7 linked regions of the Homo sapiens genome follow. The protein of the gene in region 3 purifies or fractionates together with the protein of the main gene of each other region. This does not show direct contact. Each region holds a gene or a part of one and is shown on either strand. Other genes may lie near its edges.

Region 1 (3,500 bases), on a different chromosome or scaffold from region 3:
ATTGACTGAGCCCAGGAGTTCAAGGCTAGCAAGTTTTTTTTTTTTTTAAAGTTCTCTCAAGGCTGCAAAGACTACAGTGAGTTAATATCATGCCACTGCAGTCCAGCCTGGGCAACAGTGTGAGACCACATCTCAAAAAATACAATACAATACAATAAATACAATACAATACAATAAAAATGTTGCTAGGTGTGGTGCTCACACCCAGAATCCCAACATTTTGGGAGGCTGAGGCGGGAGGATTGCTTGAGGCCAGTTTGAGACCAGCCTAGACAACATACGGAGGCCTCCGTCTCTACAAAACTTTAACAGCTTAGCTGGCATGGTGATGCACATCTGTGGTCCCAGCTACTTAGGAGGCTGAGGTGGAAGGATCGCTTGAGCCCAAGAGGTGGAGGCTGTAGCGAGCCATGATCACACCACTGCACTGCAGCCTGAGAAATGGAACAAGATCCTGCCCAAAGAAAAAAACAGGACGGGCGCGTTAGCTCACGCCTGTAATCCCAGCACTTTGGGAGGCCGAGAAGGGCGGATCACTTGAAGTCAGCAGTTTGAAACCAGCCTGCCCAACAAGGCGAAACCCCATCTCTACTAAAACTACAAAAATTAGCCAGATGCAGTGGTGTACGTCTGTAATCCCAGCTACTTGGGAGGCCAAGGCAGGAGAATCGCTTGAACCCAGGAGGCGAAGGTTGCAGTGAGCCAAGATCACACCACTGCCCTCTAGCCCTAGCAACAGAACAAGACTCTGGCTCAAAAAAAGGAAAAAAAAAAAACCAACAAAACAAAACTATTTTTATCCCTACTGCTATCAAAGCCAAACAGCCATGAAAACCAATGTGAGATTGCTGTATCTTTGCAAGTTCAGTCTCTTATTTGCAACCAATCTTGATACCAATTATCAAACATGTCTACCTAGTAATAGTATATTCTAGAAATTAAGTATAGAAGTAAATTCTAGGAGGGCCAGAGAGCCAGGCCCTAAAGCTATATTAACCAATAAAAATGCTCAACTATACCATGACAGTTGTTTCAGCAAAAACAAAAAACACCACTTCCAGCCGGCTGTGGTGGCATGTACCTGTAGTCCTAGCTATTCGGGCAGTTGAGGTGAGAAGGCTGCTTCAGCCCAGGAGTTCTAGGACAGTCTGGGCAAAACAGCAAGATCCCACTCCAAAACAAAAAACAAAACACACAAAAAAACCAACCACTTTCACTGCTATTTAGACCTGGATATCAGAAGCCCTCCCAGAGCTGCCCCTCAGGAAGTAGACACCTTTACCACTAGGCTTGCCAGGTCAGTCCTCCTGCCCAACCTATTCACATTGCTTCCTTCTAAATCCAGATCCTGGGGCATCTGCCTGCACTCTAGCTGCAAGACAGACTGGCAGGAGTATGAGTATCATGATTTCACCAAGAAGATGGAACTCTCATGTGGGAAATTATCAAAATATAAGGAGGATATCTAAGATGCTATAGCCACAGTGATAGTTGTCCACTAGTTAGATTATCTTTACCATCTTAACATCGAACATTTTATATAAGATGCTTATGACCAATTACATTTATTTTCCCATCACCACCTCCTAATTATACTTACTGAACGGGCACATTTTTTGGGGGGACTGCTAGAAAGTCCATCCAGTTGTCCATGTTCACCCAGAAATCCCGTCACTTGGTCCAAGAAAGAAGATACATCTAACTGGTGCCATTCTACTAGCTTCTGACCTAAGGATTAAAAACCAAGATCTATAAATAAATATAATATCTAGAATCCTTCTGAACATTCTCCAGGATCTATAAATATAATACCTAGAATCCTTCTGAACACTCTCATTAAGTATCTCTTTCAGCATATGCATAGATTAAAAACCTGGATCTATAAAGGTAATATCTAGAATCTTTCTGAACATTCTTATTAAGTATCTCTTTCAGCATATGCATAGATTAAAAACCAGGATCTATAAAGGTAATATCTAGAATCTTTCTGAACATTCTCATTATCTCTTTCAGCATATGCATACATTAAAAACCAGGATCTGTAAATATAATATCTAGGATCTTTCTGAACATTCTCATTAAGTATCTCTTTCAGCACATGCATAAAGTGTACTGTAAAGACATATCCTCTCCACCAGCTTATGCTACATAGTGTCTTCATAACCTAGAAGTCACATCAATTATACTCACCTAACAGATTCCCACCCGTAATGATAGGGCAACTATCTTATCTGCTGCTATCACTTACTGCCATTTAGGAAGAAGAGATTCAGACAAAGCAATATCTATATAAAACACCATCAATTAATAAAACCAGCTCCACCCTCTGCTTCTCAGGTGGGATTACAACTAGTATCTGGGCAATCTTAATATTTTAATGATAAAAAAAACTTTTGTCTTGTTTTGTTTTTTTGAGATGGAGTCTCACTCTGTTGCCCAGGCTGGAGTGCAGTGGCGCGATCTCGGCTCACTGCAACCTCCACCTCCCGGGTTCAGGCCATTCTCCTGCCTCAGCCTCCCAAGCAGCTGGGACTACAGGTGCCCGCCACCATGCCCGGCTAATTTTTTTTGTATTTTTAGTAGAGATGGGGTTTCACCGTGTTAGCCAGGATGGTCTGGATCGCCTGACCTCATGATCCGCCCACCTCGGCCTCCCAAAGTGCTGGGATTACAGGCATGAGCCACCACGCCCAGCTGGTAAAAAAACTTTTAAAAAATCCCTTAAAAAAGGTAAGATGAACATATCAGTTATTCTTCAAAAGAACAGAACTGCACAAACATAAAATACTACCATCTCCCAATGTTGCCAGAAAAAGATGTCCTAAATACATACATCAATAGATGTTTAAATAATTATAAAGGGAAAAAAACGAAACCTTCACCTAAATTACTGCAATTCTGAAAACAGATCCAGTCAAATATTAAAGATCAATCATTTAGGTAACTGAAAGACAAGTAATAGGTTAAAAGCTGCGTGCTGATATAAATCTTACCTGTCCGTGGGTCCAATATGGAAACATAGGGGAAATCCCCTAACTTATAAAACTGTATGTATCTCTGACCTTCCTCACTGTCATGATAAACCTGTTAAATCATTGATATAAAAAAAAAAGTCAGCCTCTAAGAAAAGAACCAACTATAACCTTCTTATACACCAACATCAATTAGCTCTCCAAATATACCTCCGGCCTATGTATTAAGATCTCACTCCTACACTAAAAAGAAAATAAATCTGGTTTGAACTCCTTCAACTTCCCACTTCCAGCACTCTCTGGAAATTTACCATAAACATATTGACCCATTCCTCCTCCTTTCCCAGTTCAGATGAGGTATTATTCTTCCTGCTCAAGTTATCTGTCAACTATGTCATTCATAACTCTCAACCATATACATCTTAATAAATCACAATATATTAAGATTATGGGCCAGGCATGGTGGCTCACGCCTGTAATCCCAGCACTTTAGGAGGCCGAGGCGAGTGGATCACAAGGTCAGGAGAT
Region 2 (3,500 bases), on a different chromosome or scaffold from region 3:
AAGTTAGAGACAAAGGTCAGTGGGCTGCCTGGGACCAGGAGTGACTATGAGGGGCACGGGAACTTTCAGGCGATGGGAATACTCTCTGTCATGGTGGCGGCAGCCCAGGAATGCTTTGTACAGCAGGGCACCTGAGGAGGGTGGACTTCACTACACACAACGTAGACCCCAGCAAATCAGACAGAAGCAACAAAAGAGGGGCGGGAGGGGGCAGAGGAACTCTGGAATCAGGCCCACATTTCCATCCTGAACCTTCTACTCAACAACGAGCTGTGTGACCCAGCAGGTCTCTGACCTCTCAGAGCCTCGGTTCCCAGCTTCTCAGTCTGTAACACGAAGATAGTAGGTTTCCAGCTTGGAGGGCCGCGGGAGGATGGAGTGAGCCTGGCACACTGCGAGCAGGAGTAAATGTTTGCTCTTATTTACTCGCAGGATTTGTATTTTGGGCTTAAGAAGCTCAGATTCTGATGGGTGTGTAGGCAAGGACTTCAAATGCATGAAGAATGCCTCATCCCCCAAATATAAACGGAATGTTTGCAGGCGCTCGGCCAGCTGCTCCCCAGCCCACCGCCAGTGCGCAGCCTGGGGAACAGGTGCTGAGCGCGGGCAGCGCCTGGTACGCCTCCTCTGTGGCAGAGCCTGCACGCCCCCAGCAGAGGCTGAGGCCAAAAGCTGTCTTGGCATCCTGGCCTGCTGGGCCACAGAGGGAGACCACAGCCAGGTGGGGCGAGCAGAGGGTTTTGGGAGGCCTGGAGCTGGGAGCAAAGGAGGGCCTGGAACCCAACGGGAAACCCCGGCTGAGTCAGCACTTCCCCGAGGATACTCCCCAGGATGTTACTCAGATCACCGTCTGGAAAGCCCTGGGCTTTTCAATCTCTTGACTATGAACCAGCTGACACTTGAACACTTAACTGTGCACCAGGCACTAGGGCAAGAGCTTAACATGTAAATTCTGGTAATCTACAATAACTGGAGAGGCTATGGTGTTTCCTGATGGACTGATGCAGCTCCCAGGGACTACAGCAACTCCCTAGAGCCACCCAGCTCCCCAAGTACTAACGTGGGACTTGAACCTTCTGATCTACTTGTGCTATGGATGCTGAATCCAAGAGGGACACAGCACCTGGCCTGGCTCATGGCCTTTGGGCAGCCCCTGGGAGCATTTGATGGTCTTCGGAGCACCCTGGTGAAACCTCAGCCTGGGGGTGCTGCTGGCAGCGGCATCTCCATCTCAGGAGGTGTCGGCAGGAAGTGGGGGCGGCCCACGGCGCAGGCCTGCCTCTGGGCCGGAGGGCTCAGGACACACAGGTGGGAGTGTGGGCAGGGAGGCCCCATCCAACCACTAAGGATCAGGACAGCTCCCAGGCTTAGAGGGAGCCTGCAGACCACCAGAGGGCAAACGAGAGCCCAGGCCACCAGGCTCCCTGGAGACCCCAAGGGATCATTTATGGCTGGGAACAGGGAACACAATACCAGCACTGCTGTTCAAAGCCCCAGACCTCAGGTCCATTTCAGGACTGGAGTCTAACCTTGGGTGGGAGAGAAACAGAGGGTGGCCTCTGTGTGTCTCAGGAGGGACACACATTACTGTGTGTCCACAGTAATGACCCAACAGGGGCAAAGGTCTGTCTGACCCAAGCTCCCGGCACTCCTTCGCCCACAGCCTTCATGCCAAGGCACCCTTCTCAGCTCCGCCGCAGTAGGAGCACAGCCCCTACCTGGGTTCAAATCCTAGCGCCGACACTTGCTGGCCTGCCTGTCATCTTAGGCCAATTACTTAACTTTCCTAAGCCTCTGCTTCCTCCTCTGAAAGGCAGGAGCTTCCTCCTAGATGCAGCTGCTGTGATAACTCAATGGAACTCACTGATGTGGCAGTGGCCAGCAGAAAGTCAGACACAAAGCTGGCCAGGTCTCTGATCTGCTACTGCAAGTAGAAACACTACCCTGCTGATGCTGATACAGCTTTCATGGGGAGATTGAGACACAAAAACTCCCGCTTAGTTCACAGTTGCCTAGTGACCATGGTGGGGAACGAACGAACTGGCCGGGCTGCCCACAGAGGCCCCGCCGGGGGATGACTCGGCATGAGGCACTGCCGGGACCACGCAACTGGTCGGCAGCCCCTGGAGCCAAGGGCACCACCCCTGCCGGACCCAGCTGCCCTTTGGAATGCCCTTATCAGTCACACAGGCAGCACTCAAGAATGAACGCAGCCCCCAGAGGCCACCTTTCTCTGCTGACACAGGAGAACGGTATCTTTAAAGTCACTCAGATTAGCACACAGGCAAAGGCAGCCCAAGAGACCCCAACCCGGCCCCCTTCTCGTCCCTGAGGCAGTCCTCAGGGGTCCCTGACAGAGCCTGGCTGCATCCTGACTGCTTTGGGCCTGCACCAGCCCACCTTATCTTTTCAGACCGTGTTTCCTGCACACATTAGGACCATGGGGAAAGGGGAAAAAAAGTCAGGAGGGGCCAGGCGGGGCCAGACGGGGTGGGAAATGGAAGTAAATGCAATTAGCAACCCCAATGTCCATCCACGGCCTCCACAAGGACATGTTTCCAGGGAACGGGCTGGCAGGCCAGGGGAGGCGTGTTGTGCTGGGGCCCTGGTGCGTGCTCTGCCGGCCCCATCTTTCCGAGAGGGAAACACCTGCTTTCCACGCCACCAGCAAAGGCAGTAGCAGGTGGCCAGCCCTGCCGGGAACGCACTGCTCCACTCCGACCTCCTCCGCTGGACAGGCCACACGGGCCTTTCCATGACTGACGGGCGGGGCCTCCAGGAAACAGAAATCCACTCCTCCTGTGTACACCTAGCGGGGCTCATCCTGGAGTTTACACCCAGCACCTCCAAGAGGTACTGAGCGATGGTCTTTCTCCTGACAATAAAACACCATCATTCAAACCCTAACCAGGTAACTTTTAGTAAAACACATCTAAACCAAGGCCTCTAGGGCTATGGAGGAAAAGAAATGGTCTAGTAAAATCGGTTTGATCTTCTGCTACTTCACAGCAGGAAACCCCTCCTCCAATCAGCGTGATGTGCTTCTCTTTCAGCCACCGGCTCCTTCCTGCCCATAATGGGTAGAGATGACCTTCTGTGGATATAGGGGAGCCTGGCCTCTCAGGGATGCAGAGGGGCCACACTTTGCACCTGGAGGGGAGAGGGAGGCCACACAGGCAGAGCAGGGCAGCACACTGACAGCAGCCTCATGTCCTGCTGGCTTGTTCCTCCAACCTGTTGTCTGCACAGGCAACTCCAGGGCAGGGACCACAAGGCAACACCTACGTCCACCCCTTGCTCCCAATCAAAACGCCATGCTGTGTCTGCAGATCCACTGATATGGAGCATACACTTTGGTGCTTGTCCCAGAGACAGCCAGTGTAGACACCTCTGCCTGCCTCTTTCCTACCAGGGAAAGGAAGCAGAGGGAGTGGGAGGTGGGGAGGGAGCATCTCAGAGGGCAGGGGCCAAGGCAAGCAACACAAGACATACAACCCCAG
Region 3 (3,500 bases):
TGTTTGGGTCTTTAACATTGAACTATTTTCCTTTCTTGCTTATTTTAGATTTTTTCTGGCCCTTCACTTACAGCGTACGATCTATTTTACATCTCTTTAGTACCTCTCATACCCAGTGAATCTGCTAATCTGAATTCACAGTGAATCTGCGAATCTGAATTCACTTGTATGCTGTAACAATAATAGGCTGTTGTGAGAATTAAATAAACAGTAACTGCAGTATAATAAACATTCAACAAAAATTATTTGAAAATTTTCAAACCTTACAGCTTTTGTGTGTTTTGTATCTATAAATGCCTGAAACCTTCTTTAGAACAAAGATGATAACTTTATTGTTTTAATGTTCTTCCATGAGCACTTAGGTCAGCATCATGATATATGGGTTAAAAGAGGTTTGAAGTCCTTGGTTTTCTGAAAGATCTTTGATTCTTAACTCAGAGGCTCCTACAATTATTGTGCTTATTAGATTAAGTACACACCATAAACACAGAACTTCAAAGGTAGAAGAGAAATACTGGATTCTCTTCATTCCTCTCAATAAGGGGTTAATGCAATTCTCTGCTTCCTTTCTCTATGTCTACCCTAAAAGGAGTGCCAGAACAAAGGCCTTATGAGTTGTCCCATTTTGCTGTTTAAATGATGTCTTCATCTCATCTGGAAGGAACAATCCTAATATTCAGCCAAGTCCATTGGAAGCAAGTTAAATGACCTCCAGCACTCCTCTCTTGATAATATTTGGGTGTCTTTTATGCTTCTCCATGAAAAGAAAATTTACTGCATGGCAAACCATGCCAGTGAATTATTCTCCTGAATAGACCCATTCTTTGTTTGAATACAAAGCAACCTTTTCATGTGTTTCCCAAATAATTACTCTGTTTGCCTTTACCTGAGTTTCCTCTAGTGTCATTTAATGGAACAAAATGTACTTTTTCCTAATAGAGGTTTTAGACTCTCCAGTATACCATTTCTCTATTACTGTTCATGCTCTGAGTTCCTTTTATCTAAATAATAAATCTACAATTTGTGGAAATTGTTCCCAAACTTTAAAGCTAGTTCTCTGTTCTCTTTGGCATAGAATTTAGATTTTATTTGCTCTCAAATAAGTTTTTCCAATGGGGAGATTTGGGTCTAAGAATATTTATTATAAATAAAGTAAAAACAGAAAGTCCTGTCTAGAAGTTAGAGTATGGCGTAAATATATTGTTCATCAGCCATTTCTTGTGGCTTTTAATTTAAGCCCTTAGGTTAAATGAAGGATATATTTACTCTGTAGTTCATAATACTATATTTGTGGAAATATTTTCACAGTATTGATGGTTTTAGATTTCTTTACAATGGCAAAGTAAAACTTTGAAAGAAGTTAGTGTCAACATCAGAGATAAAAGGTTAGTCAATTTCTAAATGGTTTTCAAGTTAAAATTTTTCTTTTTTCTTTTCTTTTTTTTTTATCTTAAAACTTCCCAGTGTGAAGTTAGAATTTTTAAAGAGGCAATGAAAACCACAGACAAAATCTTTTTTAAAGAAATGTACCAAGTATCCAGGAAATTACATGTTTCAGAGATTCATGCACCATTAGTTATCATCTTCAGCAAGAAAGAAAACGATTTACTCTGGTAACTGCCTTTTGCTGATAAGATCCAAGAAAGAAACCAGTTCCTGCCTTATGAACAGTCTTATTAGAATAAGACAAATGTTTACTGATTCTCAAAGAAATAAAAGGGACACTTTTGTGTAAAGTGTGTTATTGATTAGATCAGAGTATTGGGTGTCCAGAGAAATCTATTAAGCCTAGCTGCATCATGTGAAGCAGTCGTGCCACTGCTCATTATCAACTCTCTGATGCTAAGTATAACAGATTCCATGCTTCTCAGTCTACCTTCTGTGGTCATACCTGAAGGCTCTGTGAAGTTATGTTTCTGGCCTCCGAATGGAATTTTTTCAGTTCCATATTCTTTGAACATCATCAAAACTTTTTGGAAGAGGCGTTCAGAAGCTATTTTATGCAAATTGCTGCACTTTCAAGGAGACATGGAAGAGATTTAAATAAAATTGTTGTTTAAACACAGCCACGTTAAATAGATGTTCAAGAAGAATATTTTATCTATGATCAGAGAATTATGGAAAAAGAATCATCAGCCACGGAACTGAAAGGAGGGTACATGATTAATGCTTTTTAAAAAAAATACATAAATGCACTTATTTCATGAAAAGATATAAATTCACATATAGAAAATCTGAAAAAGAGAGAAAAGAAAAAAAATCACCATCAATTCTACACAATCATTGTTTTAATCTTGGTGTCTAGTTTTTCTTATTAACTAAAAGTTTATTTTTTAAATTAAATTATATTTGTTAAAATTATTGTAGTTTTACAAATGTAATTTTTAAATATATCACACATAGAAAGGTATATTTAATTTATAATGTGACAAAGCTCAAAGATATAATTATGGGGTAGCAAATGATAACTTATATGGTATTTGACCTTTTAATTTCAAAGTTTTTTGCATTCTATCCATTCATTTCTTTTCCATCATTATATGTACTGTTAAGTCTTTAGAATGTTTTGGCACATGGTGTGCATTACACCCAAGTTTATTGTGTGATTGTTGTTACTGTACTTAGTAATAGAAATAATTCAAATGTTATTCATTATAAGGGCATCTATCACTAAATCCTTTCATAGTGCCAAATAAAATACGTTTTAGAACAGTATGTTAAATGATACATATTATCTAGTAAAATGTAGAGGGAAGTGCAGGTGGTAGAAGTCATTTAAAACACCTGGATTCATGAAAACAAATCCACTTTTAATAGTCATTGGTTTTCCTGCAGGGACAGAAATACTGTTCTCTCTTTCAAAGGAATTCATTCCAAATTGAATTACCTTTCCTGACAACACTCCTTTCATCAGACTTCTTATAAACCTCTGCCTTCCCTTAAACAGGGTAAGAATTACCTGCCTTATGACCCTTTATTCTCAGGGCCATCCTAGTGAATCAATTTTATAAATTAACTTAAACAATGTTGTTACCCACCTAGGGAACTGTTCACAGTGGTCTTTTGGAAACTTGACCACAACTCACAGGAGGGGATGCAGTGGGAATTTGGTCCATGAAGGTTATCCTTTTGGCTTAGTGAAACCAGGAAGTGTTTCTCAATTAACTTCAAGTATGGACAAGTTCCCACAGCATCTGAGACTACCCCTTGGCATTATTATCCTCATGTGAAGTCCTTAATGCCTGCTGCATGTGATACTGTGATTTAAAGCAGCAAATTGTTTGAATGTCTACCATGTATCTCTTAATATCTTTCATGTTGTAAAATAAATTTTATATTGCTTGTAGGGTCATATTCTTTTGCAACCTCCTTCTAGCCCATGTTAATGTAATTTCTTTAATTAATAGATAGAATGCAAAAATTAATATAATTAATTACATTGAATTAATGTAGTTCTGGGTGTGGAACTGAATGGATAGAATGCAAAAAGTTAATTAATT
Region 4 (3,500 bases), on a different chromosome or scaffold from region 3:
GCGTGGTGGCACATGCCTGTAATCCCAGCACTAGGGAGGCTGAGGCAGAGGAACAGCTTGAACCCGGGAGATGGAGGCTGCAGTGAGCTGACATGGAGCCACTGCACTCCAGCCTGGGTGACAGAGCAAGACTCCGTCTCAAAAAAAAAAAAAAAAAGGCATTTACTGACCAGATTTGTGAAAGATTCTAATGTTAGGCCAGGGGCGGTGGTTCACGCCTATAATCCCAGCACTCTGGGAGGCTGAGGTGGGCGGATCACCTGAGGTCAGGAGTTCAAGACCAGCCTGGCCAACAGGGCAAAACCTGTCTCTACTAAAAATACAAAAATTAGCTAGGCATGGTGGCGCATACCTGTAATCCCAGCTACTAGGGAGGCTGAGGCAGGAGAATCGCTTAAACCCAGCAGGCGGAAGTTGCAGTACGCTGAGAGCGCACCTCTACACTCCAGCTTGGGCAACACAGAGAGACTCCACCTTAAAAAAATAAAAAAGGCCAGTTGCAGTGGCTCACATCTGTAATCCCAGCACTTTGGGAGGCTGAGGCGGGTAGATTACAAGGTCAGGAGTTCAAGACCAGCTTGGCCAAAATGAAGAAACTCCATCTCTACTAAAAATAAAATAAAATAAAAAATTAGCCAGGTGTAGTGGTGGGCGCCTGTAATCCCAGCTACTCGGGAGATTAAGGCAGAGAATTGCTTGAACCCGGGAGGCAGAGGTTGCAGTGAGCTGAGACTGCACCAATGCACTTCAGCCTGGGGGGCAGAGTGAGAATCCATCTTAAAAAAAAAAAAAAAAAAAAACTTTTAATGTTTACTCTCCAAGCCACAGCTTGGTCTTATTTACACAGCATGATACTGTTAAATGCTTATTAAAATAACTTAAAATTCTTATAATTTTGATACAGAATGTTTGAGCTATTTCAATCTACACACTATTATTCTAGCTGGTTTACTTAGCAGCTCTCAAACAAACTAGATAGAGATACACAAATGCCTAACTAGATTCTAATATGACTGCTATAAAAAGTGTGCAAAATATTTTTCAAGGATAGTCAAATACATGTACTACTCATCTTTAAAGGCAAATGAGACAAAATAATGTAGAAGAGCAGAAATCTGTAAAATATTTACACTAAAATGAATTCAAAAATTTCATTTTCTACAATATTCTGACCCAAAATCAGAGCATAACAAAAGCATGTCCTGTCCTTATGAATTTATAGAGCATAATTTTATGACAAACATAATGGTAGAAAAAGAATATGTAACACAAATACTAGCTGATCATATTAAAGATAAAATAGGGCGGACGCGGTGGCTCACGCCTGTAATCCCAATGCTTTGGGAGGCCGAGGCAGGTGGATCACGAGGTCAGGAGTTCGAGACCAGCCTGGCCAACATAGCGAAACCCCCATCTCCACTAAAAATACAAAAAAATTAGCCAGGCATGGTGGCGGGCGCCTGTAATCCCAGCTACTCGGGAGGCTGAGCCAGACGAATCACTTGAACCCAGGAGGTGGAAGTTGCAGTAAGCAGAGATCACGCCATTGCACTCCAGCCCAGGCGACAGTGCAAAAATCAAAAATGAATAAATAAATAAAAAATAAAGATAAACTAAGCAGAAAAAAATACGCACTGTCAATAAACCTAAATGTGAAAAAGCAAAACCATACAATTTACAGAAGAATATAGAGATGAACAGCCTTACGGATCAAAGGTAGGGAAGACTTTCTTGCATAAAAGACAAAAAATGCAAAACATTTTGGGATTCACTTTCCCCATCTGTCAAATGAAGGCATTGAACGTGGAAGACTCTCAAGTTCCCTTCCAGATGTAGAAACAGATTTATGGGTCCAGATTCTGTAGAGGTCACAGTGTTTTTTACAATTTTTTACGATCAGTTGCCCACATTTATAAATCAGAAAATTCTGTATAACATACGAATTTGGGCTGGGCGCAGTGGCTTATGCCTATAATCCCAGCACTTCGGGAGGCTGAGGTGGGCAGGTCACCTGAGGTCAGGAGTTTGAAACCAGCCTGGCCAACATGGTGAAACCCCATCTCTACCGAAAACACAAAAATTAGCCGGGCACAGTGTCACATGCCTGTATTCTCAGCATGCCTGTAGTACTCGGGAGGCAGAGGCAGGAGAATTGCTTGAACCCAGGAGGTAGAGGTTGCAGTGAGCTGAGATCGAGCCAGCCTGGGCAACAAAGTGAGACTCCGTCTCGGAAAAAAAAAAAGAGTGTGGGATGAAAGAGCCTGCTTGTACTATGTGCTTGGAAAGAGAAGACTGAAATCTGATGCCTGAAATTTAACGGCTTAAAAAAAAAAATCAGTAAGCTTGCTGAGTATTAGCATGTTTTCATTACAGATGCCCAGTGGGATATATATTTTTATAGGCTCATTAGTTTAATGGAGTTTCTTTAATGTTTTATTTTAGGTTCATCTTAAAATACTGTGAAATATTTCAAACACACAGAAAATAATATAATGATCATTTGATATGTCTACTACCCACCTTCTTTATCAAATTTTAACAATTAAAATTAAGGGCCGGGCGTGGTAGCTCACGCCTGTAATCGCAGCACTTTGGGAGGCCAAGGCGGACGGATCATGAGGTAAAGAGATTGAGACCATCCTGGCCAACATGGTGAAACCCCATCTCTACTAAAAATACAAAAATTAGCTGGGCGTGGTGGCACACGCCTTTAGTCCTAGCTACTCGGTAGGCTGAGGCAGGAGAATCGCTTGAACCCAGGAAGCGGAGGCTGCAGTGAGCCGAGATCGCACCACTGCACTACAGCCTGGCGACAGAGCGAGACTCCATCTCAAAAAAAAAAACGAAAAAAAAAACAAAGATTAAGACTGTCATAATTTTTTTAACTTTTTTCTTTTACTGTTTACTGAATTTTTTTTTTTTGAGATGCTCTGTCGCCCAAGCTGGAGTGCAGTGGCACGATATAGGCTCACTGCAACCTCTGCCTCCCAGGTTCAAGCGATTCTCGTGTCTCAGCCTCCTGAGTAGCTGGGACTACAGGTGGGCGCCATCACGCCCAGCTAATTTTTTATATTTTTAGTAGAGACGGGGTTTCACCATGTTGGCCAGGCTGGTCTCGAACTCCTGACCTCAGGTGATCCACCTGCCTCGACCTCCCAAAGTGCTGGGATTACAGGCGTGAGCCACCGCACCTGGCCGGTTTGCCGCATTAATTTTGTGGCTTTCTTTTTTTTTTTTTTTTTTTTTGAGACAGAGTTTCACTCTTGTCACCCAGGCTGGAGTGCGTGGCGCAATCTCAGCTCACTGCAACCTCCGCCTCCTGGGTTCAAGCGATTCTCCTGCCTCAGCCTCCCAAGTAGCTGGGATTACAGGCATGCGCTACCACGCCTGATTAATTTTTGTATTTTTAGTAGAGATGGGGTTTCACCATGTTGGCCAGGCTGGTCTCAAACTCCTGACCTCAGGTGGTCATTCACTCCGCTCTAATTGCAAAGAATCCA
Region 5 (3,500 bases), on a different chromosome or scaffold from region 3:
TGTTGCCGAGGCTGGAGTACAGTGGCATGATCTTGGCTCAGTGCAACTTCCGCCTCCCAGGTTCAAGTGATTCTCTTGACTCAGCCTCCTGAGTAGCTGGGATTACAGGCGTGCACCACCACACCTGGCTAATTTTTGTGTTTTTAGTAGAGACAGGGTTTCACCATGTTTGTCAGGCTGGTCTCAAACTCCTGACCTCAGGTGATCCACCTGCCTCAGCCTCCCGAAGTGCCGGGATTGCAGGCATGGGCCACCACTCCCGGGCAGTCATCCAGATCTTTAGAGTATAATCTTACACGGCAAGAATAGTTACTCCATGCTGTCAGCTGCTGGGTTACTTCAACACCAACATTCTGAACCGTACCATTTAGATGTTTGTTTTCAACTGGTATATTTAATATCACTAATATTTCTGTGTGTGAGAAGATATCGGTCAGGAAAAAGTATACCAGTAACATGTTTTTAGAAGATATTTTGGGTCTAGAATTTATAGCTTCAGCTAATCTCAAAACTCCTTCATCTTCAACTGCTAAAATGGTTGACAGTTTATAGCAATCTTCTTTTTTTTTTTTTTTTTTTTTTGGTTGAGATGGAGTCTTACTCTGTCGCCCAGGCTGGAGTGCAGTGGCGCAATCTCGGCTCACTGCAACCTCCATCTCCAGGTTCAAGCGATTCTCTTGACTCGGCCTCCCAAGTAGCTGGGACTACAGGCGTGCACCACCACACCTGGCTAATTTTTTATTTTTAGTAGAGATGGGGTTTCAACATGTTGGCCAGGCTGGTCTCAAACTCCTGAACTCAGGTGATCCACCTGCCTCAGCTTCCCAAAGTGCTGGGATTACAAGCGTGAGCCACCACGCTGGGCCTATAGCAATCATTTTGACAAGCTTTTATGTTTAAATTTTTAGCATCGATAGCAGTGTTGTCCAGTAGAACTCTGCAGTGAAGGGAATGTTTTATATCTGATCATGTGGCTACTTAGCACTTCAGATGTGGCTAGAGTAACTGAGGAACCAAAATTTTAATTTTGTCTAATTTTAAATAATTTAAATGCAAGTAGCCATATGTGGCTAGTAGTTACCATATTGGACAGCACAGCTCTGTAGACTCAACTGTAAGGAGTGTTCTTTCTTTCTTTCTTTCTTTTTTTAAGACAGTCTCACTCTGTTGCCAAGCTGGAATGCAATGGTGTGATTATACATCACTACAGCCTCAAACTGTGGGGTTCAAACGATCCTATGTCCTCAGCCTCCTGAGTAGCTGGGAATCCAGGCACATGTCACCACACCTGGCTAAAGAAATTTTCTTAGAAAGTATTTTTTAAAAGGAATTGCATTAAAGTTTAATGAGTGAAAACAAAGTTTATTTGGGGGGTATCCATTTTTCTTTGTCATATTCTATTTTTTAAATTTTACCATTATTTTTATTAGATATAGCATCTCATTATATTGCCCAGGCTAATCTCCTGGCCTCAAGCAATCCTCCTGTCCTGGCCTCCCATAGCACTGGAATTACAAGCATGAGCCCCATGCCCAGCCATATTTTTTTTTTTTTTGAATCTGGTTCTCAACTCTCCTCAACTCTATTGTCCAGACTAGAGTATGAGTATAGTGGCGTGATCATGGCTCACTGTAGCCTAGCCTGAAACTGCTGGCCTCAAGTGATCATCCTGCCTCAGCCTCTAGAATAGCTAGGATTACAGGCACACCACCGCAGCTGAGTTTTTTATCTTCTAGTTGTTATCTTTTTAGGGACAGGACCTTGCTGTGTTGCTCAGCCTGGTCCCAGACTCCTGGCCTCAAATAATCCTCCCACCTTGGCCTCCCAAAGTACTGGGACAATAGGCATGAGCCATCACACCTGGCCACATATTTTATTTTTAAAAGCAATTTATTGAGATATAATTTATACCCATTAAATGAATTTTTAAAAATCTCCGGATTAATCCTGTCAAAGTGAGAGGATATCTTGGAAATACAGATGAGAAAAAGAATATAGCCATCTCAGTATCATGGTATCAGAAGAAATTTCTTCAGGCCTGGTGCAAAATATGGAAACCTTATTTCCCTTTACCCTCTCCCATTTGGAATGCAATTGTTATCATTTTCTTCTACAGTTAGAACCATATCAGGCAGTGTTACAATTTTTGCTTTTGCTTCAACTGTCAAACATAATTTAGAAAACTCAAGAGGGAAAGAAAAGCTTATTGCTCTGTATTTACTCTTTTTCTCTATTTATTTATTTATTTTTTTGAGATGGAGCCTCATTCTGTCGCCCAGGCTAGAGTGCAGTGGCGTGATCTCAGCTCACTGCAACCTCCACCTCCTGGGTTCAAGTGATTCTCATGCCTCAGCCTCCTGAGTAGCTGGGACTACAGGTGCACGCCACTATGCCTGGCTAATTCTTTCATTTTTTATAGAGACAGGACCTCGCTATGTTGCCCAGGCTGGTCTTGAACTCTGACTTCAGGTGATCTGCCCACTTTAGCCTCCCAAAGTGCTGGGATTACAGGTGTGAGCCACCACGCTCAGCCTCTATATTTATTCTTAGTTTGCATACTGATTTTCTTTCCTTTCTAACAGTCCACGATGTCTTCTCTTATTTTTTCATTTCTGTTTAGAAAACTTCCTTTAGCTATTTCTAATGCAATAGAAAAAATTCTATTATTCAGTCCTTTAGTTGGCTTACTTGAAACAGGATCACTGCAGAGATTTCCCCATCTGTGCAAGAATTAGACAATGTGAGAATTAATTGTTAAACAGGAAATATTTATTAGATTCCTATTGTGTTACATATTTTTACATTTTATTTAAAATATGTATTGCCAGGAGCGGTGGCTCACGCCTGTAATCCCAGCACTTTAGGAGGCTGAGGCGGGTTAATCACCTGAGGTCAGGAGTTCGAGAGCAGCCTGGGCAACATGGCAAAACCCCGTCCCTACTAAAACTACAAAAATTAGCTGGATGTAGTGGCTCACGCCTGTAATCCCCAGCACTTTGGAAGGCCAAGGCAGGCAGATCACCTAAAGTCACTTTGGCAAATAATATAAACAGTTCACAGAAAAGGACATACATATGGCCTTTTAAAAATATAAAAAGATGCCAGGCACAGTGGCTCACGTCTAATCCCAGCACTTTGGGAGGCTGAGGCAGGCAGATCACAAGGTCAGGAGATTGAGACCATCCTGGCTAACACAGTGAAACCCCATGTCTACTAAAAATACAAAAAATTAGCTGGGCATGGTGGCGGGCGCCTGTAGTCCCAGCTACTCGGGAGGCTGAGGCAGGACAATGGTGTGAACCTGGGAGGCAGAGCTGGCAGTGAGCCGAGATTGCGCCACTGCACTCCAGCGTGGTCAACAGAGTGAGACTCTGTCTCAAAAAAAAAAAAAAAGTATTAAAAACAAATGCACTTGTATACTTTAAAAGATTTAATTTTTATTTTATGTGACTTATAGCTCAATAAAACTTATTTTTAAAATATGTGCATGATTTCTTTTT
Region 6 (3,500 bases), on a different chromosome or scaffold from region 3:
CATGAGTCCCCATGCCTGGCTGAAATTTTTATTTTTTATTTTTTATTTTTATTTATTTATTTTTTGAGACGGAGTCTCGTTCTGTCACCCAGGCTGGAGTGCAGTGACGCAATCTCGGCTCATGCAACCTCTGCCTCCTGGGTTCAAGTGATTCTCCTGCCTCAGCCTCCCAAGTAGCTGGAATTATAGGCTTCTGCCACCACACCTGGCTAATTTTTTTGTATTTTTAGTAGAGACGGGGTTTCACCATGTTGGCCAGGCTGGTTTTGAACTCCTGACCTCAGGTGATCTGCCCTCAACCTCCCAAAGTGCTAGGATTACAGGCGTGAGCTACCGCGCCCAGCCCAAAATTTATATTTTTTAATGAGCTCCTGTTTGTACAACAGCCAGCAATTTGGGAACCACTGGACTAGACAAATTTCTTTTTTTTTTTTTTTTTTTTTTTTGAGACAGAGTCTCGCTCTGTCACCCAGGCTGGAGTGCTGGAGTGCAGTGGCACGATCTCAGTTCACTGCAACCTCCGCCTCCTGGGTTCACGCCATTTTCCTGCCTCAGCCTCCCGAGTAGCTGGGACTACAGGCGCCCGCCACCATGCCCGACTAATTTTTTTTTTTTTTTTTTTTTTTTTTTTTTAGTAGAGACGGGGTTTCACCGTGTTAGGCAGGATGGTCTCGATCTCCTGACCTCGTGATCCGCCCGCCTCGGCCTCCTAAAGTGCTGGGATTACAGGCGTGAGCCACCATGCCCGGCCTGACAAATTTCTTAAGTCTCTTTCAGGAGTGAGGATCTGATCTGCTCTGTTTTTCTCACTGAAAATTAGTGCCCTCGGCCGGGCACGGTGGCTCACCCCTATAATCCCAGCACTTTGGGAGGCCGAGGTGGGCGGATCACGAGATCAGGAGATCAAGACCATGCTGGCTAACACGGTGAAACCCCATCTCTACTAAAAATATAAAAAATTAGCTGGGTGTGGTGGCGGGCGCCTGTAGTCCCAGCTACTTGGGAGGTTGAGGCAGGAGAATGGCGTGAACCCAGGAGGCGGAGCTTGCAGTGAGCCGAGATGGTGCCACTGCACTCCAGCCTGGGCGACAGAGCAAGACTCCGTTTCAAAAAAAAAAAAGAAAGAAAGAAAATTAGTGCCCTCGAGCTTTCTTAGGGAAATGTGTTCAGGCAGTATAGCATAGTGGTTAAGAGCACAGGCTCTGAAACCGGAGGGGCCATGAGAGAAGTTTGGGATACCTTTTTAGAGACATTGTCTCTTTCTTAATCAGCTTGGATATTTTTGTCCTTTCTCGTCTATATAGAAGCCATTTGTTCATTGAGCATAGATTGATGGTGAATATAATACCAGAGTGTCCTCTTTAAAGGCATGGATCCTAATATGTGAAAAAATCCAGACTTAAAGCAAATAAACCAGGGGCTAATTATAATTACTCAAATTAAATAGTGATTCTTTGTTTTCCAAAGGGATTTCTGGGAGTTTTTCTTTCTTTCTTTCTTTCTTTTTTTTTTTTTTTTTTTTTTTTGAGACGGAGTCTCCTTCTGTCGCCCAGGCTGGAGTGCAGTGGCGTGATCTCGGCTCACTGCAAGCTCCACCTCCCGGGTTCACGCCATTCTCCTGCCTCAGCGTCCCGAGTAGCTGGGACTACAGGTGCACGCCACCACACCCAGCTAATTTTTTGTATTTTTTAGTAGAGACGGAGTTTCACCATGTTAGCCAGGATGGTTTCGACCTCCTGACCTCATGATCTGCCCACCTCGGCCTCCCAAAGTGCTGGGATTACAGGCGTGAGCCACCGCACCCGGCCAGGAGTGTTTCTTTCAATAACAAGCAACCTCATTGAAAATAAGATGACAACATCTATTAGGGAAATGATTCCTTCTCTATCACTATATTAAGTTAACTGGGGCTTGGAGTAGTTTTCTCTAGTAGTGGTACATAAGTTGGTGCCTCTGCATGTTTCCACTCACATTCAACCTTCAGTGAGAAAACTCCACCATCCTTGGTGATCCAGCCCAGTCATCCCCTCTGTGCTCCAGAAACACTGTTGTGCACTTCTCTTGAAGCACCTCTGTGTTGTAGCCTATCTGGCTCTGTGACTGTGAATTCAAGGGTGGGACAGTATCTTGCTCTTCATTTCCCGTGTAGACGGGGGCATCAGAGCCTTTAGTGCAAGTCTTGCTTATATACAGTTCAGGCCGTTCAAGTCAAAAGGCCAGGTTCAGTTTGAAGCCCTGGCTTTGAAACCAAAATCCGTTTTTTTGCTAATAAGCAGGCATTAGCAAGGCATTTGATATGTGACCTCTTGACATGTCATTGTTTTGTCACTGATATGGAACTGATAATGTCTACTCTTCTTTTCTTTCCCCTCAAAAGAGGGAGTTATACAGAATGGGAAAGAACTTGGGGGAGGGCAGCACAGCACAGTGGTGCAGATCACAGGCCTGTTTTGAACTACTTGGACTCAAGTCCTGGCTCCTGTACTCTCCACCAGAGCAACTGGGCCAGTCCCTTTGCTCCTCCAAGCCTCAGTTTGCTTTCTCATCTACTAAATGTTGATTGTGGTAGTACCTACATCACAGGGTCTTTGTGAGGATTTAGCACAATGCCCAGCACCCAGGAAGCACTCTCTGTGTTTTACAATTTTAATATGAGTTGTTGTGATGGTTTGTTTGCAGTGACTCCTGTGCCCTTATTCCTCCCAGTAAAGTACCAACCCAACCCTGCCCTCTTCTCTTTTTGCAGAGGATGTGGATCCCTCAGTTGGTCGATTCAGGAACATGGTGCAAACTGCAGTGGTCCCAGTCAAGGTAGGAAGCACATGAAATGCCATACAGTCTGTGTTTTAAAACCTGCTCTTTAGGCCAGGCGCGTTGGCTTATGCCTGTAATCCAAGCACTTTGGGAGGCTGAGGCAGGCAGATCAAGAGGTCAAGAAATCGAGGCCAGGCACAGTGGCTCACACTTGTAATCCCAGCACTTTGGGAGGCCAAGGCAGGCAGATCACCTGAGGTCAGGAGTTCGAGACCAACCTGGCCAACATGGTGAAACCCTGTCTCTACTAAAAATACAAAAATTAGCCAGGCGTGGTGGTAGGTCTCTGTAATCCCAGCTACTCAGGAGGCTGAGGCAGGAGAATCGCTTGAACCTGGGAGGCGGAGGTTGCAGTGAGCTGAGGTCGCACCATTGCACTCCAGCCTGGGCAACAGAGCAAGACTCTGTCTCAAAAAAAAAAAAAAAAGAGATTGAGACCATCCTGGCCAACATGTTGAAACCCTGTCTCTACTAAAAATACAAAAATTAGCTGGGTGTGGTGGCGCATTCCTGTAGTCTCAGCTAACTGGGAGGTTGAGGTGGGAGAATCGCTGGAACCGGGGAGGTGGAAGTTGCAGTGAGCTGAGATGGTGCCACTGCACTCCAGCCTGGTGACAGAGCGAGACTCCATCTCAAAAAAAAAATAACCTGCTCTTTATGTGCTGTTGAGTGAGTGCTTAATTTTA
Region 7 (3,500 bases), about 30 Mb from region 3:
CGTGTGTGTGTGTATGTGTGAGTGTGATGAGGTCTCACTATTTTACCTGGGCTGGTCTTGAACTCCTGAGCTCAAGCAATCCTCCCGCCTTAGCCTCCTGAGGAGCTGGAATTACAGGCACATACTGTCACACCTAGTTATGATATTTTTAATACATAAATCACAGAATTTTAGACCTAGAATAGATTTTAAGAGATTGTCTAAAAACTATTGTTTTATAGATGAAGAAACTGAGGCCCAAGGAAGTATCTTTACCAAAGAGACTTAATCATGTAATTAATGGCAGAACCTGGGGTAATTATTCTTTCTACTTCTCACTGTATTGTTACAAACTATAATATTACATTCTTTCCTTTCTTTAATTTTTTTTTTTTTTTTGAGACAGAGTTTTGCTCTTGTTGCCCAGGCTGGAGTGCCATGGCACGATCTTGGCTCGCTGCAACCTCCACCTCCCAGGTTCAAGTGATTCTCCTGCCTCAGCCTCCTGAGTAGCTGGGATTACAGGCATGCGCCATCATGCCCAGCTAATTTTTTGTATTTTTAGTAGAGATGGGGTTTCTCTATGTTGGTCAGGCTGGTCTTGAACTCCTGACCTCGTGATCCACCCGCCTCAGCCTCCCAAAGTGCTGGGATTACAGGTGTGAGCCACTGCAGCCAGCCTCCTTTCTTCTGTTCTCCCTTGCATTGGAAATATTCTTATTTTTGCTAATTAAAAAAAAATTAGGGCCTGGCATGGTGGCTCATGCCTGTAATCCCAATGCTTTGGGAGGCTAAGGTGGGAGGATCAGTTGAGGCCAGCAGTTCAAGACCAGCCTGGGCAACATAGAGACCCCCATCTCGTGTGTGTGTGTGTGTGTGTGTGTGTGTGTGTGTACCTATATATGTATGTATTTATATATATTTGGTGTATGAAAGCTCCCTCCCCTTATAATTTTGCAACTCTTTCAATAGTTTAGTCTTTATGTATATTTAAAATTCTTTTCTTTTATTTCGAGACAGGGTCTCTCTGTTGCCCCACCTGAAATGCAGTGGTGTGATCTCGGCTCACTGCAACCTCTGCCTCCCGTGCTCAAGTGATCCTCTCACCTCAGCCTTGAGAGTAGCTGGGACTACAGGCATGTGCCACCATGCCCAGCTAATTTTTGTATTTTTTGTAGGGACAAGGTTTCACTATGTTGCCCAGGATGGTCTCGAACTCCTGAGCTCAAGTGATCCCCCTGCCTCAGCCTTCCAGAGTCCTGGGATTAAGAAGTGAGCCACCGTGCCCAGCCAGTTGTGTTTATTAAAAAAAAAAAATGCACAGCATTTTTAAAAATAGCAACACAACATTCCAGTGTATGGAAGAACCATTATTTCTTCAATCCTGTTACTATCGATAGACACATAGATTGCTTTTGACTTTTTGCTATTAGGAATGATGCTACTGTAAACCTGCTTGTAACTACATTCATGTGTTTAAATAAATTTCTGGCCTGATCTCTACTAAAAATACAAAAATTAGCCAGGCATGGTGGCACATGCCTATGGTCCCAGCTACTCGGGAGGCTGAGGCAGGAGAATCGCTTGAACCCAGGAAGGGGAGGTTGCAGGCAGTGAGCCGAGGCCGCGCCATTGCACTCCAGCCTAGGCGACAGAGCGAGACTCCGTCTCCAATAAATAAATAAATAAATAAATAAAGTTGAATTTCTGAGTCTGAGAATAGGCATTTAACATTTCAAGAAATACAGAGAGAGAGACAGACAGAGAGAGAGAGAGATTGTTAGGGCCCACTTCCATCATTATAGCCTAACTGTATTGTCAGGGCTTGACTTATGAAACCTTTCCCAAGGTCTCCTCCATCTGCCTGCACATTCCCCTGCCTCACTGGATTATAGTTTACTTTTAGTTAGCTATTCTTAAGATTTATTTCTCTAAATGAAGCAGTAAATGTTGATTGAAATCTGTATTTTTAAAAAGAGATGAGGTCATGTTTAAGTACCGTTAGTCAATTTTTGTTGATTATATGTTTACCTGGGAAAACCCTGTAAATGAAATGCAGATTACCTTTTACTTATTGGTTTAAAGTCCATCATAGGAATGAATGGATTCAGTGTTCCCTATTGGCAGGTAAGAGCAGTAAGGAAGGGGTAGAAGGAATTAATACTTATTATGTGCTTATATGGCTGATGCTGAACTAGGTGAATGTATGTGATGTTTAATTTTCACAGCAACTCTAAGATGTAGGTATAGTCATCCACTTTTACTAGATAAAGAAACTGAGGCTCATAAAATTTGCCTAATAACCACTGATAATAAGTGACAAAGCCCAAGTCTTTGCTCAGTTTAAGGACCCAATTGTGTAAATAAGTAGTGGTTAGGCCCCTCAACTAGTGCACAGAAATTTCCTAAATGAGGAGTGCAGCCATATTATTTTGATGACATGAGCTGTCCTATGTACCTAACCATCATTTCTAATGTTTGCTTATTGTATATAATTCACAAATTTCCAAAAGGATCTAGGGTGGTTTTAAAAAAATACTTATGTGGAGACATAGAATTCAAGTATGATTGCTACAAATGTGTTTTTTCCCCAGTCTCAAGAGGAACACCTTCTTTTCTGAATACCCTGTACATCTGGGAACACACTTTCCTATCCTGTCTGCTACTCCCTCTGTGGGGAGCTGGCAGGGAAGCAAGGATTCTCCCCTGTGGGAAAGGCCTGAGCCCCACCCACAGCAGTGAATCATCTCAGTCCTTGCTGCGGGTTGCTGCTTAAAGTTTGCCACACACCTCCTGGAGCTTACCTTCACGAATTCACCCAGGGTGTTATTCCTCCAATAGCTCTCTTATATAAGATCACAAAAAGTCTTTTCTTAATAAAAAGGTTGTCTTCTTTGATATTATGCATCTATGCTTTAAAAAAAAAAGTTTTTCTTTTTAAATGTTCATCTTCCCACCCAGGCCGTCACCGATGGGTTGTATATACTACTGAAATGAATGGCAAAAACACATTCTGGGATGTGGATGGAAGCATGGTGCCTCCTGAATGGTAAGCTAAGACAACATTTTATTTGTCTTTCTTTTTTTTCTTTTTTGAGACAGGGTCTCACTCTGTCACCCAGGCTGGAGTGCAGTGACATGATCATGACTCATGTCAGCTTTGACCTCCCAGGCTCAAGTGATCCTCCCACATCAGCCTCCCTAGTAGCTGGGACTACAGGCCCATGCCATCTCACCCGGATAATTTTTGTTTTGTTTTTAAATTTGTTTGTTTGTTTCTTTTTTGAGACAGAGTCTCATTCTGTCGCCCAGGCTGGAGTGCAGTGGTACAAACTTGGCTCACTGCAACCTCCACCTCCTAGGTTCAAGCGATTCTCCTGTCTTAGCCTCCCGAGTAGCTGGGACTACAGGTGTGAGCCACCACGCCTGGCTAATTTTGTATTTTTAGTACAGACAGGTTTTCACTGTGTTGGCCAGGCTGGTCTCGAACTCCTGACCTCAGGTGATCCATCCACCTCGGC

Evidence for each region.
Region 1: the proteins of WIF1 (region 3) and UBXN7 purify together in Homo sapiens (affinity purification with mass spectrometry; one large-scale study listed by BioGRID and IntAct). This does not show direct contact.
Region 2: the proteins of WIF1 (region 3) and EHD1 purify together in Homo sapiens (affinity purification with mass spectrometry; one large-scale study listed by BioGRID and IntAct). This does not show direct contact.
Region 4: the proteins of WIF1 (region 3) and NT5C2 purify together in Homo sapiens (affinity purification with mass spectrometry; one large-scale study listed by BioGRID and IntAct). This does not show direct contact.
Region 5: the proteins of WIF1 (region 3) and PNPT1 purify together in Homo sapiens (affinity purification with mass spectrometry; one large-scale study listed by BioGRID and IntAct). This does not show direct contact.
Region 6: the proteins of WIF1 (region 3) and PPP1R8 purify together in Homo sapiens (affinity purification with mass spectrometry; one large-scale study listed by BioGRID and IntAct). This does not show direct contact.
Region 7: the proteins of WIF1 (region 3) and NDUFA12 purify together in Homo sapiens (affinity purification with mass spectrometry; one large-scale study listed by BioGRID and IntAct). This does not show direct contact.

The regions. Positions count from the first base shown.
Region 1 is NC_000003.12:196,366,428-196,369,927, forward strand, and holds part of UBXN7 (UBX domain-containing protein 7), read right to left. Parts: intron 3,085-3,500; coding exon 2,994-3,084; intron 1,729-2,993; coding exon 1,601-1,728; intron 1-1,600. UniProt on the Homo sapiens protein: Ubiquitin-binding adapter that links a subset of NEDD8-associated cullin ring ligases (CRLs) to the segregase VCP/p97, to regulate turnover of their ubiquitination substrates.
Region 2 is NC_000011.10:64,868,622-64,872,121, forward strand, and holds part of EHD1 (EH domain-containing protein 1), read right to left. Parts: intron 1-3,500. UniProt on the Homo sapiens protein: ATP- and membrane-binding protein that controls membrane reorganization/tubulation upon ATP hydrolysis. In vitro causes vesiculation of endocytic membranes. Acts in early endocytic membrane fusion and membrane trafficking of recycling endosomes.
Region 3 is NC_000012.12:65,079,806-65,083,305, reverse strand, and holds part of WIF1 (wnt inhibitory factor 1 precursor), read left to right. Parts: intron 1-3,500. UniProt on the Homo sapiens protein: Binds to WNT proteins and inhibits their activities. May be involved in mesoderm segmentation.
Region 4 is NC_000010.11:103,186,773-103,190,272, forward strand, and holds part of NT5C2 (cytosolic purine 5'-nucleotidase), read right to left. Parts: intron 475-3,500; exon of another isoform or gene 353-474; intron 1-352. UniProt on the Homo sapiens protein: Broad specificity cytosolic 5'-nucleotidase that catalyzes the dephosphorylation of 6-hydroxypurine nucleoside 5'-monophosphates.
Region 5 is NC_000002.12:55,673,345-55,676,844, reverse strand, and holds part of PNPT1 (polyribonucleotide nucleotidyltransferase 1, mitochondrial precursor), read left to right. Parts: intron 1-3,500. UniProt on the Homo sapiens protein: RNA-binding protein implicated in numerous RNA metabolic processes. Catalyzes the phosphorolysis of single-stranded polyribonucleotides processively in the 3'-to-5' direction. Mitochondrial intermembrane factor with RNA-processing exoribonulease activity.
Region 6 is NC_000001.11:27,844,282-27,847,781, forward strand, and holds part of PPP1R8 (nuclear inhibitor of protein phosphatase 1), read left to right. Parts: intron 1-2,746; coding exon 2,747-2,811; intron 2,812-3,500. UniProt on the Homo sapiens protein: Inhibitor subunit of the major nuclear protein phosphatase-1 (PP-1). It has RNA-binding activity but does not cleave RNA and may target PP-1 to RNA-associated substrates. May also be involved in pre-mRNA splicing.
Region 7 is NC_000012.12:94,993,698-94,997,197, reverse strand, and holds part of NDUFA12 (NADH dehydrogenase [ubiquinone] 1 alpha subcomplex subunit 12), read left to right. Parts: intron 1-2,940; coding exon 2,941-3,028; intron 3,029-3,500. UniProt on the Homo sapiens protein: Accessory subunit of the mitochondrial membrane respiratory chain NADH dehydrogenase (Complex I), that is believed not to be involved in catalysis. Complex I functions in the transfer of electrons from NADH to the respiratory chain.